Homo sapiens: one gene and its partner. The main gene of each other region encodes a partner of the protein of the gene in region 2 in a complex. Each region holds a gene or a part of one and is shown on either strand. Other genes may lie near its edges.

Evidence for each region. The genes of interacting proteins can lie anywhere in the genome.
Region 1: the proteins of ASPH (region 2) and F10 are in contact, whole or in part, in a crystal structure (PDB 6Q9F), measured with the Homo sapiens proteins. Residues at the interface, in NP_004309.2 of Homo sapiens: Ala389, Glu390, Arg393, Ser394, Asn395, Leu398, Gln431, Phe432, Leu433, Gly434, Met436, Arg437, Val462, Leu465, Leu466, Ile467, Gly468, His493, Phe496, Ala500, Arg526, Phe529, His530, Arg562, Ser563, Leu564, Tyr565, Asp616, Glu617, Leu619; in NP_000495.1 of Homo sapiens: Asn97, Gln98, Lys100, Cys101, Lys102, Asp103, Gly104, Leu105, Gly106, Glu107, Tyr108, Thr109, Cys110, Thr111, Leu113, Glu114, Gly115, Phe116.

What each region holds. Positions count from the first base shown.
Region 1 is NC_000013.11:113,118,411-113,125,819, reverse strand, and holds the start of F10 (coagulation factor X isoform 1 preproprotein), read right to left. Parts: upstream 3,022-7,409; 5' UTR 2,965-3,021; coding exon 2,895-2,964; intron 1-2,894. Other genes in the region: F7 (coagulation factor VII), read right to left, coding at 6,812-7,407. UniProt on the Homo sapiens protein: Factor Xa is a vitamin K-dependent glycoprotein that converts prothrombin to thrombin in the presence of factor Va, calcium and phospholipid during blood clotting.
Region 2 is NC_000008.11:61,711,578-61,719,126, forward strand, and holds the start of ASPH (aspartyl/asparaginyl beta-hydroxylase), read right to left. Parts: upstream 3,016-7,549; 5' UTR 2,795-3,015; coding exon 2,692-2,794; intron 1-2,691.

The DNA.
Region 1 (7,409 bases), on a different chromosome or scaffold from region 2:
TGTTTGGTCACAGCTGTATGCCCGTGCCTAGCACGGCCGGAACTTAACCAATATGTGTTGAGGGAATGAAGGAAAGATGGCGTGCCTGGCTCAGCCCTCTGGACTGAATCTGGGCGCTTCTGCTATCTGTTATGGCTGAGTCGCATCAACGCTTCAGTCAGACTGAGCAGGCCGGGTCTGGGCCACGTGGCCACACTTTCTGATGTGAGTAAAATGGGATTTTGGCAAAACGAAATTAAAACAAGGTTTTTAGGCACTTGTCTCAAGAAATTAATGGAACACTCTAGAACTCTGATATGGAGCATCCAGATTGGTAGACATTTGTCGTGTGGTTTGTTTCTTCAGAAGCTGTTGGGAGCATTGCAATCCTCGAGCACACAGTTGTGTTTGTTGTTTTGGCAACATCAGTGAATTCCACAGTCAGCAACTGCATTTGAGCAAGTTTTACCAGCAAGCAAAATTTTCAGTCAGTAAGGTCCAAACTCATGAAGAATGGGTTTAAACTTGTTGAATGTAAAGATTGAAACTGAAGCCACGTAGCTTTAATGATTGCCAGTACAACAGCAGTAGTTTAAAGGCTGGCACTGCAGGTGCTCTGCGTATTCTGATTTTATTAAAATAAAAAGTTGGATTGCAGAAAACACTCACAGGTGGCAGGACAGGGCTGAATAATGTCCCTCCAAATTCATGTCTTTCCCAGAACCTCAGAACCTGACCTTAATTGGAAATAGAACTTTTGTGATGTATTTAGTTAGGAAGACATTTTATGGGAGTAGAGTGAGCCCTAAATCCAATGACTGGTGTCCTTCTGAGAGAAAAGAAGACAGAAAAACAGCCATGGTGAGAACCCCATGCGATGATGGAGGCAGCGATGGGAGCAATGCTCCCACAAGCCATGGGCTGTGAGGCCGCTGGCACCCCGAGGCCAGGAAACAGGCCTAGAGCAGACTCTCTCCCAGCCTCTGGAGGAACCAGCCCCGCTGACGCCTTGATTTTGAACTTCCAGCCTCCAGAGCTGTGGGAGAAATGTTTCTGTTGCTTTAAGCTACTTGGTCCATTGTCCTTTCTTGTAGCAGTACCAGCAAAGGAATGCTGAGGTCCCACCGCCCCAGAAGAACTTCCGTGACTGCCAGGACAGCTGTGCTCGTTTAAAGGCTAGACTGCAGATGCTGTGCGCATTCTGATTTTATTAAAATCAAAAGTGTGCACAGCAGGGTCCTGAGTGGGACCTTCTGGGACCTGTGTTCAGCCCCACCCACCCCACAGTGCAGCTGCCGAGGCCTCTGAGGCAGAGTAGGGGAGAGAGATGGCCTGGCCCTGGCTCTCCGGGGCTGGCCATGTCCACCCAGGGTCCAGGCCGGCCCCCGGGGACACCACAGGCCATGGTTATGAGCCAGGCCCGCATCACACAGCTAAGGGTGCCAATACCCTGTGGACCCAGAGGTCCGCGAGGTGGGCGCCTGCATTTCCCATTGGCAGGAAGGGAAGCTGGCGCTCCACCAGGACTCTGCATAACTCCCCTAGTTTCCTCCTGTGGGTCTGGGTGGGCTCCTGGCCTGTCTTCTCATCCCCACCCTCTGCTTCTTCCCAGGAAGAGGAGTCCTGCCAACTTCCATTCCCAATAAGCCAGAGCAGCTTCCAGAGTCCCGGGCCGGGCTTAGGGCCTCGGGAGCCCCGGGCCGGGCTTAGGGCCTCAGGATCCTAGAGCATTCCGGCTGCAGAATTTTCTACCAATTCGCGGAAGCATCTGTCTGTTTGCAGAGTAGCTTTGCTGTCGATGATGATGGCATGGGTCCTTCCAGGGCCTTGTTCCACCCACGCTGATCTCATCCCACCACAAGCATCACAGTGGGCTCCTGCAGGGGGCAGTGTGGCCTGAGGGGGAGGAAGAAGGCTGGGCGAGTTGGAGCCACACAGTACCCCATGAAGACGGGAGTCCCGTTCCGCGTGGGAGACAGGAAGATGTGGCTCAGGGGACAGAGGCTGGGGAGGGCAGGGGGTTGAGGGTGGGATGGAGAAGACCCCCGTGTGATGTGACTGGAGCTCCAAGTCACCAGGCGGAGGGGCCGTTTAGGTCAGTGATGCACTGAGGATCCACTCAGCCTTCCCAGGGGTCTCCCCTTTCCACCCCACGAGGGTCTCCCCCTGCTCCGTCTCTCCCTCACACATTCCCTTCCCAGGCCTGGGTCCCCTTGGTGCCCCTGCCTGTCCACTTTGTCCAGGATGCAAACAAGTCTAGGGTCCCTGTCTCTCGTGTCCCCACCAGAGGGGCCTCCTCTTCCTCCGCTGTCCCCAGGCTTGCCTGGCTTCTGTCCTGTCTGGGCCTCTGCTTTTGGACAGACCCGGGGGTCCTGGACAGCCCTGCTGCCCCCACCTGTCCAGCTGTGCATTAGGCAGCTCCTTCCCCGACGGAGCCAGTCCGAGAGTGGTGGCACTGGCTCGGCTCAGCCTCCTCCTCCCTGGGAGCTCCTCTGCTGTGCCCCTCGTCCTGTGCCTCCCTGTGGTGGCAGATGGCTAACTGTCCTGTCTCTGCCTGCCCCAACCCCTCCCTCTCTCTCTGTCTCCGTCTTTCTACCTCTGTCTCTGCCTCTTGGCCTCCCATCTCACTGTGTCTCCGTTTCTCCTTCCCTCTCCCTTTCTCTCTCTGACTCTGTCCTTGTGTTTTTGTCTCTGTGACCTCTGATCCGCCCGTCTGACTCTCAGCCCCAGGGAGCCACAGCTGGCCTTGAGGATGCCGTTGGCTGGAAAGGCCAAGCCCAGCCATCCGAGCCCAGCCTCTGGCAGCACTCAAGGCACCCACCGTCCAGGCTGCAGAGATGAGAGGGTTTCCCCAACTGCCGCCCCTCCCTGCTCCCTGGCGCTGCTTTTGGGTCTGAAGGGCGAGGGGCACTTACGACTTTCCCCGAGCAGCAGGAGGCCAGCCAGGGAGGCACTGAGCAGGACGAGGTGCAGTGGGCGCCCCATGGTGTGGCCGAGTACTGTGTCCCTGTCCTCACTGGGACAGGCTGCTGGAGCAAAGTCCACGCCCCAGCTGGGATGGCTGTTGTCTGGCTGCTTATCACTTGGCTTAGGCCTCCTGATTGGAGCCGAGACCTGCTGGCGAGGCAGGGGAGTGACCACGCTGGGAACACATCCACTCTGGCCCCACCTTCCCCAGGCAGAGCTGGGCGGCCAGAGAGGCCCCGCAGAACCTCATCCTCATCAGTCACCAGGGCCGCGGGTGTGGGGACTTTCTGTTCTAAGAATAAAAACATCATTTCGTGCTCATTTTGTAGTTTCCAGATGTTTACATTTAACTCTCAGTCCTCACATACAAATATCATTTTCCCCATCATTTTTCCAGAAGAGAAAACTAAGTTTAGAGAGCGCAGAAGCCTGAGCCGAGGCCGCTGGCAGTGAGCGTGGGATCTGAGCCCAGGACTTCTGCCCCAAGGCCCTGCTTGTTTCTGGGCGGGCCCTTCCGCTCACAGCCACTCTCTGGGTGGTATCAGGTGGTCTCATGTCACGGGGGGGGCTTGGCATCTGCACCATGGCCTCCCACAGGCCAGGCTGGCACCTGCCCCACCCACCCCCAAACCTTCTGTGCCCGCATGGCCCCAAAACGTACTTCTGTGGGGAGTGACCTTCCCGTGACCATCTGGAGGGACAGGCTGTGTCTGAAGCCCCTCCTGACCTGCCCACCACTGGCCACACTGTTCCGAGGCTGAGAGGGCTTCTGGGCTCGTTCTCCAGTGCAGAAACCTCCCATCACAAGGTCCTGAGTGTCTCTGCTCAATGGCTGTGGGAGTCACTGGGAGGTGCAGCCGGGCTTTTTGCCTCTGGGGTCTCTGGAATAAATGGTCTAAAGCTTGGCCAGTGTGGCGATCACTGCCTGCTATGCCGTAGTGGCCGGGGAGCAATGCCCCTAACACCCACAGCACTGGCCACTGCCTCATGGTGCATCTGCCTTGATGGGTCGCCCTGTCTCGCAGCCACCTGCACATGAGCCTGGTGTGCACACATTGTGCGTCATTGTGCCTGGCACACAGGAGGCACTCACTGAGCCCCACCCGACTGCACAAACTGATGATGCTGGATGCCAACGCCAGGCTGGCCTCCCACGGCGGGCACCACGCACAGCCTGGTCCTCTGAGAAGGGCCTTCCTGGTGGCACCAGATGTCTGACTCCTGCCTCTCCTGGTCTCCACCCTCTGACATCGCCTCTAGGCATGTTTGTATGGAGAGACCAATGCGGTGTGTGCACCAACAGCAGGATGCTCATGGCAGACACGCAGTCTTTGTCATCAATGCTGGGTGGCGATGCTGGCTTTGGTGGCCCAAGCCTGCCGCCTCATCCCACCCTGTCCCAGGCCCATGGCCAGTGGCCTCCCCGTATTCTATCTCGCCACTCACAGAAAGCTGGAGCTGAGCCGTGGCAGGTGGCACGTCCCATATGAAACATGTAGCCTTTGGGGGCGCCCAGGCCCTTCAGCGAAGCCTCTGGGGAGTCCCGGGCCCCCTCCTCCGGCAGCACCATGAGGTGGGCGCCTGCATTTCCCATTGGCAGGAAGGGAGGCTGGCGCTCCACCAGGACCCCGCATGACTCCCCTAGTTTCCTCCTGTGGGTCTGGGTGGGCTCCTGAACTGTCCTCTCATCCCCACCCTCCGCTTCTTCCCAGGAAGAGTCCTGCCAACTTCCACTCCCAAGAAGTCAGAGTGGCTTCCAGAACCCTGGGCTGGGCTTAGGCCCTCAGGAGCCCCGGGCATTCTGGTTGCAGAATTTTCTACCAATTCACTGAAGCATCTGTCTGCAGAGTGGCTTTGCTGTCGATGACCATGGCATGGGCCCTTCCAGGGCCTTGTTCCATCCATGCTGATCTCATCCCACCATAAGCATCACGGTGGGCTCCTGTTTTACACATGAGGAAACTGAGGCATGGTCACTCGGACAAAAGAGAAAGCAGAGCCAGCTCTGACCTGGATCAGGGCCCGCCACTGGCTCCCGTCCCGTTTAGGGGGCATTAGGAACCGGGGTCTGGCCAGGGTCAGCAAGCATCTTCAGCAGAGGTCCTGACACTAACCATGCTGGGCTTGGCGGGTCAGCTGGTCTGTCCGGCTGGACGTCTCTGCCACGGCCACTCCATGGACACTAATATGGGTGTGTTCCCATAAAACTTTATTTACAAGAGCAGGGTGCCTTGGAAGCAGCCCACGGCTGTAGTTCATAGACCCTGTCTGCTCTGAAGTAGATGATGCCTGAGTGCCCCCGAGGTGGGTTGCTGGTGCCTGCCTTGCTGCTGTGAGTGCCAATGGTGCCCACCTTGCTGCTGTGAGTGCCAGTGGTGCCCAGGACGGCCCTGCAGGGATGGCATCGAGTCCACTCTCTGAGCCGTGCTTGCCGGAGTCTGAGTGGGGGCACTGTTTGTCACCTCCCCATTTCTCTGTTCATGTGTTTCTCATTCTTCTTCCACCACCCTGGGGACTCAGCAAGAGTGCAGCTTGCCAGGTCCTCCCACTGCAGCCAGGGCCTGGGAACTTGCATTTAGTGATGCGTGTGTCCCTGACTCTTGAGCAGGTGCTCCCAGGGTCTCTGTGAAATATCATTGACAAGGGCTGTGGCAGGGAGAGAACATCCAATTCCACAGGATCCTGGGAGCTACAGCCTCAAACATCTATCAAACAGCTTTTGTTTTTAAAAAATAGCTTCCATGTGAGGGTTCATTTCAGTGATGTTGAAAATTGTGAAAGAAAAGAGCATCTCAGAGGATGAGCACCGGGGGCTCCAAAAATGAATCATGGGCAACCCAGTGGGTGGCAGGCACCACAGGTGTGCGGAGGAGACGCAGCCGTTTATTGTGAAGCTGGGAAGCAGGTGGGGAATAGTCTGTGCAGCCCGGCACCCAGCGAAGGGAGAAATACATTTGGGGGAGAGTTTGGGGGCATTCGCCACCATGCATGGTGATGCTTCTGAATTGTCTGAAGTGAAGATGATAATGGATAAGAACCAGAAAAGTGAGAGCTAAACAACCGCCTTCAGAGGACAGCACACATGGAGTCAGCATCGGTGTGTGTGCATCTGTGTGTGCATCTGTGTGTGTACATCGGTGTGTGTGCGCATTGGTGTGTGTGTGCTCATCCATGTGTGTGCATATCTGTGTGTGCGCACATCGGTGTGTGCATATCTCTGTGCATCCGTGTGCACTGATGTGTGCGTGCATTGGCATGTGCGTGCATCCATGTGTATATCTGTGTGTGCATCTGTGTGTGCATATCTCTATGTGCGTGTGCATCGGTGTGTTTGCGTATCTCTGTGTGACCATCTGTGTGTGCATCCGTGTGTGTGCATATCTCTGTGTGTGTGCATTGGCGTGTGTGTGTGTGCATCCATGTGTGTTCATGCCTCTACTGTCTCCAGCAATGAAGGCAGAGCAGCAGCCTGAGGCCAGCAGATCACGTGCAGGTGGGCTTGGCTGAAGGGAGGTAAGGAGGCTCAGCTGGGCTGTCTGCCTCCAGGACAACCTTGGCACTCCCCTGCCCCTCTGTCCAGCGCCTGTCTGCCTCTGCCTCTCATCTTTTCTATTCCATCTCTGTGTCTCTATTAGTCTCTTTGAATCTTGGAGTCTCTTTGAGTCTCTCTCCATGTCCTCAGAGTCTCTCCCTCAGTCTCTCTCTGTCTCTGTCTCTCTCTGTTTCTGTCTCTGTCTCCCTCCCCACCTCTCCCTCCCTCCCATGCCCTCCTCTACCCCATTAACTGCAGAAGAATATATGGGATTTGGTGCCAGGACAGTTCGACGCAGCCTTGGCTTTCTCTCCACAGGCCAGGGCTGCTGGGCTAGGGAAATGGGGCTCGCAGGAGGACTCCTGGGCGTGGCTCTGAGCGCATGAGCTTTTGCAGCCACTCGATGTACTGGGAGACCCTGGTGTACACCCCAAAGTGGCCCACGGTTGCGCAGCCCTGGCCCCAGCTGACGATGCCCGTCAGGTACCACGTGCCCCGGTAGTGGGTGGCATGTGGGCCTCCACTGTCCCCCTTGCAGGAGTCCTTGCTGCCATCCGAGTAGCCGGCACAGAACATGTACTCCGTGATATTTGGGGAGTCTCCCACCTTCCGTGACTGCTGCAGGCAGTCCTGGGTCATCAGCCGGGGCACGTTGAGGACCATGAGCTCCAGGGCCGTGGCGCCACGGTCCAGCAGCTGGCCCCAGCCGCTGACCAATGAGAAGCGCACGAAGGCCAGCGTCCTCTCAGAGAACGTCCGTTCGGGCAGGCAGAGGGGCACCACATGGTCAGTGAGGACCACGGGCTGGTGCAGGCGGAGCAGCGCGATGTCGTGGTTGGTGGTGCCCGGGACGTACGTGCTGGGGATGATGACCTGCGCCACCCGCCGGCTCTGCTCATCCCCGTCGTGCTCGCTGAGGTCGTGCTCGCCT
Region 2 (7,549 bases):
TGATATAAATTCCCCAAATTCCAGCTTCCAAACATCACTTTTCAGCAAAAAAACCACCAAGATAAAGTTTGGCCAGGAAAAAAAAAAGAAATCACCTTTTCCCTAAAATGCATGTTTCAAATGACTGGGTTCTTTTTTCCCCATACGTTTACACAACAACTTAAGAAATAATAATGTTTAATGTGACCAATGCCGTCATTTTCTGACTCTCAATGTAAGACATATCAAAAAACGTACTATTTGAACACATATACTTCTTCTCAAACTAAAATTTCAAATAGTGTTTCAAATAGAATTTTTGTCAAGGGAAATGTAATTGGTGATAGGACAAAAGCATAGTTTTCTCCAATAATTAAATGTAGTACTCATGGAGACAGCCAGAAGAAAACTTGATAATCTAGTTCAACTCCAATTACATACTAGAGAACCTAAAATTCAAGCATGGCAAAATGAATAACAAAACCTGGGTTCTTAGTCTCGGTTCTTCCAGTAATTAGTTGAGTTTCCATGAACTAAACAACCTTCAATGAACTCGGCAACTTCTCTGGGCATTAATTTCCTCATCTGTATGATTTGAGCAGGAAACTAAATGGGTCTCACAGTATGACACTGCTAAAAAGTCTTTGATTTTCCCAGTAGAAGGAAATGGTTCGCACAACGTCCGTACTTTAATGACCAGGTAAACAGCATTAAAAGAAAAGCCGGCTTTATCTTTCGAGTACAGCCTACTATACACGACACTGTACTTTAACTGTTTAGGGTGATGGAAGGAAATGGTTTCCATACCCAGTGCCTTCTATCTGGCACACAGTAAGAACTCAGTATCTACTGGAGAAAAAAAAGAAAAGGTTGCGGATATGCGGATAAAGAATACTCATTACGTCACATGCAGGGTTCCAATATCAACTTTTGTTTTCGTATCACGGGCATTCCTCCCTTTTACATATTCTTTTACATACTATGTCTGTTTCATGACTATTAGAGAATCAACGTGTAAAATGCTTAAAAGGCTGTAGATCCTCAAATATGGGCAGAGTTTGTTCTAAAATGCCTGACTATGAAAGTCAGGAGAAGTTAATTTAAGTTACTGCATTTTCTAAACCTATCTCTTGCCTGTTAAAATGCTTCAAATAGTTATGGGGTAGGTCTAGAAACGTGAGACACATTTCCCAGTATTAGTTCTCACCAATAAGAGGCCATATAAAGTGACTTCCCTCAGATGCAATCAGCCCTCTCCTCATAAACACAAAAATGAAATGGAACGAAGACATGCTTCTCTGGCAAATAGCTACAGAAACCTTTTGAAAACAACTAACATTAAAGTTGTTCATCAGCTTTCTCTGCTTAGTGCCCTTAGAGGCACAATGAGAAGAACCCATTCTCATTTAGGGATGTTAAAAAAGAGTAGCCTCAGTCGGCTGAGGCAATTAATCTATCCCTCTGCAGGTTTAAGTAAGTGACATTTAAGAACAAGTGAAAAAGGAACACAAACTTTCACTTATGTCAAAGGTGAATTAATATGCTTGCATTGAACTTCAAACTGTGTCTACATCTTTACTTTTAGAATACAAATATTAGTCCTTAGAATGTAAATTTGTGCAATGGATTTAATGCACTACTTTCCCCATTTAAATCCATTCATTCATTCACTACTCAAATATTTATTGAGCACCTATTATGGGAAAGGAACATTCTAGGAGCTGGGGATACAGAGAGAATGAGCCAAAGACAACACACATGAAAGTAATAAGACAAGTTCAGATAGTGACAAGTGCTATAAAGAAAATACTTCTTTGACTATAGCTGATTCATTTTCTTGGTATATTATGAATGCATGATCTGAAGATCTCAGAAAACAAAGAGTCTAAATCACTTCAAGTGAAGTTTACAGCTCACATTCCATACACATGTGTATTGCAGTTTCAATATCCCAAATATGAGTCAAAGGAAGTATAAAAGAAACCAAGAATCACTGAAATATGAGACGAAACAGATTTAAAAATCTGTTCTCTCTGCTGGATATGCACACGGACGAGGAGAAAGGTGAATATCCAATCGATTTTTATTTTAAGTAAAAGTGGTAAAAATACAGACGCTCGTTCAGTATTTCATGACATTCTATTTTAAAGGCAACTGCAACGCATATTAAGAAAGCTACATACAAGCAAAAATATTTAAAATAATTTCTGAGAGCATTCAAATCACTCCCAACTTCTTCCCTCCCCCTGCCCCCCGGCGCCCCCATTTTCACCTCCTTTGAGTTGCTCTGAAACGCTGCTGGTTAGGCAGGAACTCACTTTCCCTGACTTTGGCTCATTTTCAACTCCCCAAAACACGCAAGGCAAACGATAAATTGTTCTCTTACTCCCATGTTCAATTCCACGGAAAGCCAAGAAACAGTCGTTCAGCAACCTCTGTCTCGGCTGCGCCCTGCAGGTGAAGGAACCGCTGGGAAGGGGCTCCCCGAGACTAGCATCCCGAGGGCTCGGACCCCGGTCCGCCTGGCCCCTCGCCCGCCCGCCAGGCCCGCCGAATGCGGCCTCCGCCCCGCGCGCCTAAAGGAGGAGCGTCGCGGGGGATGGAGGCGGCGCGCGGTGGGACCTGGGGAGATGCACCCGCAGCGTCCGCCGCGCCAGCCGGCTCCCTACCCCGAGGCGAGGCCCCAGATCCCCGCCCCGCAGGGCCTCTGACCTCTCCGGGCCCCGGGGCTGCTGCTGCCCGCACTCGTGCTACCGCTGCCGGAGCCGCTGCTGCTGCTGTTGCCGCTGCTCTTGGCATTCTTACGCTGGGCCATTGCACGGTCCGCGGGGGCTGGTGAGGGCTGGCGGACCTCCTTCAGTGCGCGGGGGTACACACGCGACGCGGGAACCGCTGGCGGCGGCGGGCCGCTGGAGCGGGTTCGGGCCGCTGCTCCTGCAGCAGACCCTGTGCCTCAGCACCGCCTGCAGCACCTGGGAAGACTTCACCCGCCTGCCGGCTGCGCGCGCCCGGCCTCGCGTGTACGAACCTGTGACTCCCTCCCGGGGCGAGAGCGCGCGGCTCGCCGCCCGACGGCCACGCCCCTTCCCGGCCTCGCCCCGCCCCCGGAAGGCTGAGTGACGGCGCCTGGGACCCAATCGCAAGGGCCCTTACGAGGCGGCGGTACCCTGCCGCGCTCCCCGCCCCTGCTCACTTAGGGCTGTTCGGGCGCTACGCAGCTGCCTGTGAGCGCGAGCCTCTTTCGGCTTTCCAGTTTGTCTCGGTCCTTTGGAACGTGGCAAACGTGGAAGCCGAGAGGGCTCTCGCGAGCGTTGGCAGACCCCGCTCCATAGGGATGGGACAGGGCGCGGTGCGGAATAGGTGGACACGTGGGCCGCCCGTGGGCGGAGTGCGCCGCTTCTAGGCCTTTCACTGTGGATTTTGTCCCCTTTCCGTATACAAGGAAAGGAAGGAGTGCAGTCTCGCTTCTTGCGAAAGAGATCCCTATTTCTTGTCCTGATTAATACTAAGACATTTCTGGAATGGTGATATTAGGACTAGTTCAATGCTTAAACCGTAGTAGTTCATCCATTTGGTGCTGAAGCAGGAATTTAGTTCGTTTGTGCCATCAGTATTTTCAGATACTCTTAGTTAAGGAATGAAAATGCAAATGTGACACAAAAAGTTCATTTTCTTACCCTGGATGGCACCCTCTGTCTGAAATCCCTGGCTGCTTTGCTAACGCCTGGGCCTGTGCTGCCTGAGAATTCCCAACAGAGTATTAAAATGTCTTGGCACGTGGTTGAACCAGACAAGGACTTGAGATCAGCGACGTCTTTATCATCTTTGTGTCACCATTGCTAACACCATGCCCAATGTGTAACAGGCAAGCAAGAAATGCTTAGTGATTTGATACATTTCTGTCAATTGCTGAACCCACAGCTCTTGATCATGTTTCGTAGCAACCCCTGGGAGTGTCTCAGGAGGGCTCAGGGACCAGAGAGAGCAGTTGCATTGTGGCATCTGGTTTCATTCCTCTTTTCCAGCCCCACAAACCCACCCACCCGCGCCTTCAGAAGCACTCCCGCCTCCCCCCGGCCCCATGCCTTTTCACCTGTGGATGGTTGGATGCTGCTTGACCCTGCCCTGATGATGCACAGAAACCCCCCAAAGGTCATGTTGCAGAATAAAGAGAATGCCTTTCTTTACCTTTTGTCAAATAGTGTTAGGCTATTATCAAGAGACGGTGGGAGGGGAGAGTTCACAGAGTTTTTATTGAAGTAGCTCTCTCAGCTTTTATCTTGTGGCATCTCCTTCTGCATCCATATATCCTTTCTCCCATTCAGGGCCCCCTTACAACCCTCTATTATATTATCTCAATGAAGGAGGTGGAGAACTGGATTAAGAAATAAATCTGAGTGATGGTGCTTCATATAAAATAAAAATGAGAGCTAAATTTCAAAACACAATGCTCTAGCCACCCCCCACCCCCCACACCAAAGATATTTTTACCCTTAAATTCTCACAAAACCCTGTAGTCATATCAATTTTTTAAAGAAATTAGATACTGGAAGCTCAGAGAGATAAAACAAAGTAGGGTCACTGTATTAGTCCGTTTTCACACTGCAGATAAAGACATATCCCAGACTGGAAAGAAAAAGGGGTTTAATTGGAGTTACAGTTCCACATGGCTGGGGAGGCCTCAGAATCATGGCAGGAGGTGAAAGGCACTTCTTACATGGAGGTGGCAAGAGAAAATGAGGAAGAAGTAAAAGCAGAAACCCCCAATAAACCCATTAGGTTTCATGAGAATTAATTCACTATCACGAGAATAGCACAGGAAAGACCGGCCCCCATGATTCAATTACCTCCCTCTGGGTTCTTCCCAAAACACATGGGAATTCTGAGAGATACAATTTGATGTTGAGATTTGAATGGGATCACAGCCAAACTATATCATTCTGCCCCAGTCCCTCCAAATTTCATGCCCTCACATTTCAGAACCAATCATGTTTTCCCAACAGTCCCCCAAAGCCTTAACTCATTTCAGCATTAACCCAAAAGTCCACAGTCCAAAGTCTCATCTGAGACAAGGCAAGTCCCTTCTACCTAAGAGCCTGTAAAATCAAAAGTAAGCTAGTTACTTCTTAGATACAATGAGGGTACAGGTATTGGGTAAATACAGCCATTTCAAATGGGAGAAATTGGCCAAAACAGCGGGGTTACAGGGCCCATGCAAGTCTGAATTCGAGTGGGGCAGTCAAATTTTAAAGCTCCAGAATTATCTCCTTTGACTCCAGGTCTCATATCCAGGTCACTCTGATGCAAGAGGTGGGTTCCCATGGTTTTGGGCAGCTGCATCCCTGTGGCTTTGCAGGGTACAGCCTCCCTCCCAGCTGCTTTCACGGGCTGATATTGAGTGTCTGCGGCTTTTCCAGGTGCACAGTGCAAGCTGTCAGTGGATCTACCATTCTGGGGTCTAGAGGATGGTAGCAGTCTTCTCACAGCTCCACTAGGCAGTGACCCAGTATGGACTCTGTGTGGGGGCTCTGACCCCACATTTCCCTTCTGCACTGCCCTAGCAGAGGTTCTCCATGAGGGCCCTGTCCCTGCAGCAAACTTTTGCCTGGGCATCCAGGCGTTTCCATACATCTTCTGAAATCTAGGCGGAGGTTCCCAAACCTCAATTCTTGACTTCTGTGCACCTATAGGCTCAACACCACGTGGAAGTTGCCAAGGCTTGGAGCTTCCACCTTCTGAAGCCACAGTCTGAGCTGTACGTTGGAGCCTTTCAGCCACAGCTGGAGTGGCTGGGACAGTCACAAAGCTAGTAAGTGATAGAGGAGGGATGTGAACTTGGTTGGACTGGCTCCAGAGTCTATACTCCAAATTATTCCTCCTGGATAAGACATAGTTTTGAGTGGAGAAAGTCTCACCTGGCTCCCTTTTCGGTTAATGGATGTCTCCAGGAAGCCTCCTTGGTCCTACCTTCAAAGATAGGTCTGAAACCCAGTGGTAAGTGCTTATCAAAGCCTATCTTTTTAAGGAAATCAAATTTGTTTTATAGCTAACTCCAAAATGCCATTAAGTGATGCTTTGCTCCTGCATTTCCAGAAACTAAATCTGGTACCCCTGACAAGGTACATTGCTGTGTATCTTGGGCAATATCAGGCCAAAATAGAGGTTTTAGTAAATATGAATCACAGAAAGAAAGAGGCTACCTAGCGCTTTCTTGTATCCTGAGGAAACAACTATGATAACATTTATGTGCTCAGTATTATCGAATAAAACTTAAATCAGATGCCATCAGTTCTAGACACAGTTTCATTTCAGGGACTGAATTCCCTCAAGCTAAGTAACAGAACTATACATTTTATATCTGTCTGTACTTCCCATATTATGGGCATCAAAAAACGCAAAGCTTACTTAGGATTCATATATTTCTTTACAAAGGACATTTTCTCAGCATGGTTGTGAAAAAGACAAAGTATCTTAGTATCTTTTAAATTAAAGGAGAAGTCAAATGTCCCTTGTTAGCTTTTCCTCTTTTCTGTAATTTTCAAGCAAACTATGGGTGAAATAATGTTAAAAGGACCATAAAGACAAGACTTATCTAGGACAATTTATTAAAATACTAATTTAATAGAGCTTTTGAACTAGGTCAAATGTGTCTTTCAGGTATTTCCATAAACCTTCCACTGCCTTCAGTGGGATTTGCAAGTGAGAACTGGAGGACACGATTTGCCCTACTTCTTTTTTTTCCATTCTGATGACCCTTTACAACCTCCAGTCAAATTCCTTCCAAATTAATATTTCTGGACTTACTTATACCTACTATAGCATCGTTTTAAAAATTCCACTTTAACCTGCTTCCTAGAAAATGCCTCTCATTTTTATGCAATCTTCCTACTGTGAAGTTTTATTATTGCAAACTGGAACTGAGTATTTCCTCATCTTTATTTGCCATAGTAAGACCATAGTGGAAAACAATAAATTTCAACTGGTCATGATTCATTTATATGTTTTTCATATTATATTAGTGAAATTTGTTGCAACGAAAGGATATTGGTAAGTATAGGAGGATTTTGAAGGCATTCCCTACTCAGTGTTTTCAAAGCAATTATCCTCATATGAGTCATATCTCAACACGTAAATGAACTGTCATTTTCACCAAACAGCTTGACTTCAGATTATCTAGAAAAAATAAGCCTGACTAATATCTACATCATAAATAAATAGAATAAATTTATATGAGCAGAAGTGATTTTAAATCCAGTCTAAAATGGATTTGAGTTAGTACTATTGTGTTACGATATGGTAAAATGATCTGAAGTCACATTAGTTAAGAAACCTATCATTTCCTTTTTCCTTTCAATTCTTTAAATTTCCTATCAAGATTGGTACTTCTTAGAGCCAAAGTTCCTTTCTATCAAATAACATCTAAGTAAGTGCTATTGCCAGTTCTTGAGTTTTCTAGCACAGGGAAATGATGGAATTAACTGACTCTTCTTAAGTCTCAAACTTAATGCCAGAAAGAAACTTAAACATGGAGAAAAAGCCAAACATTAGAGAATAACAAGAAATTACAGTC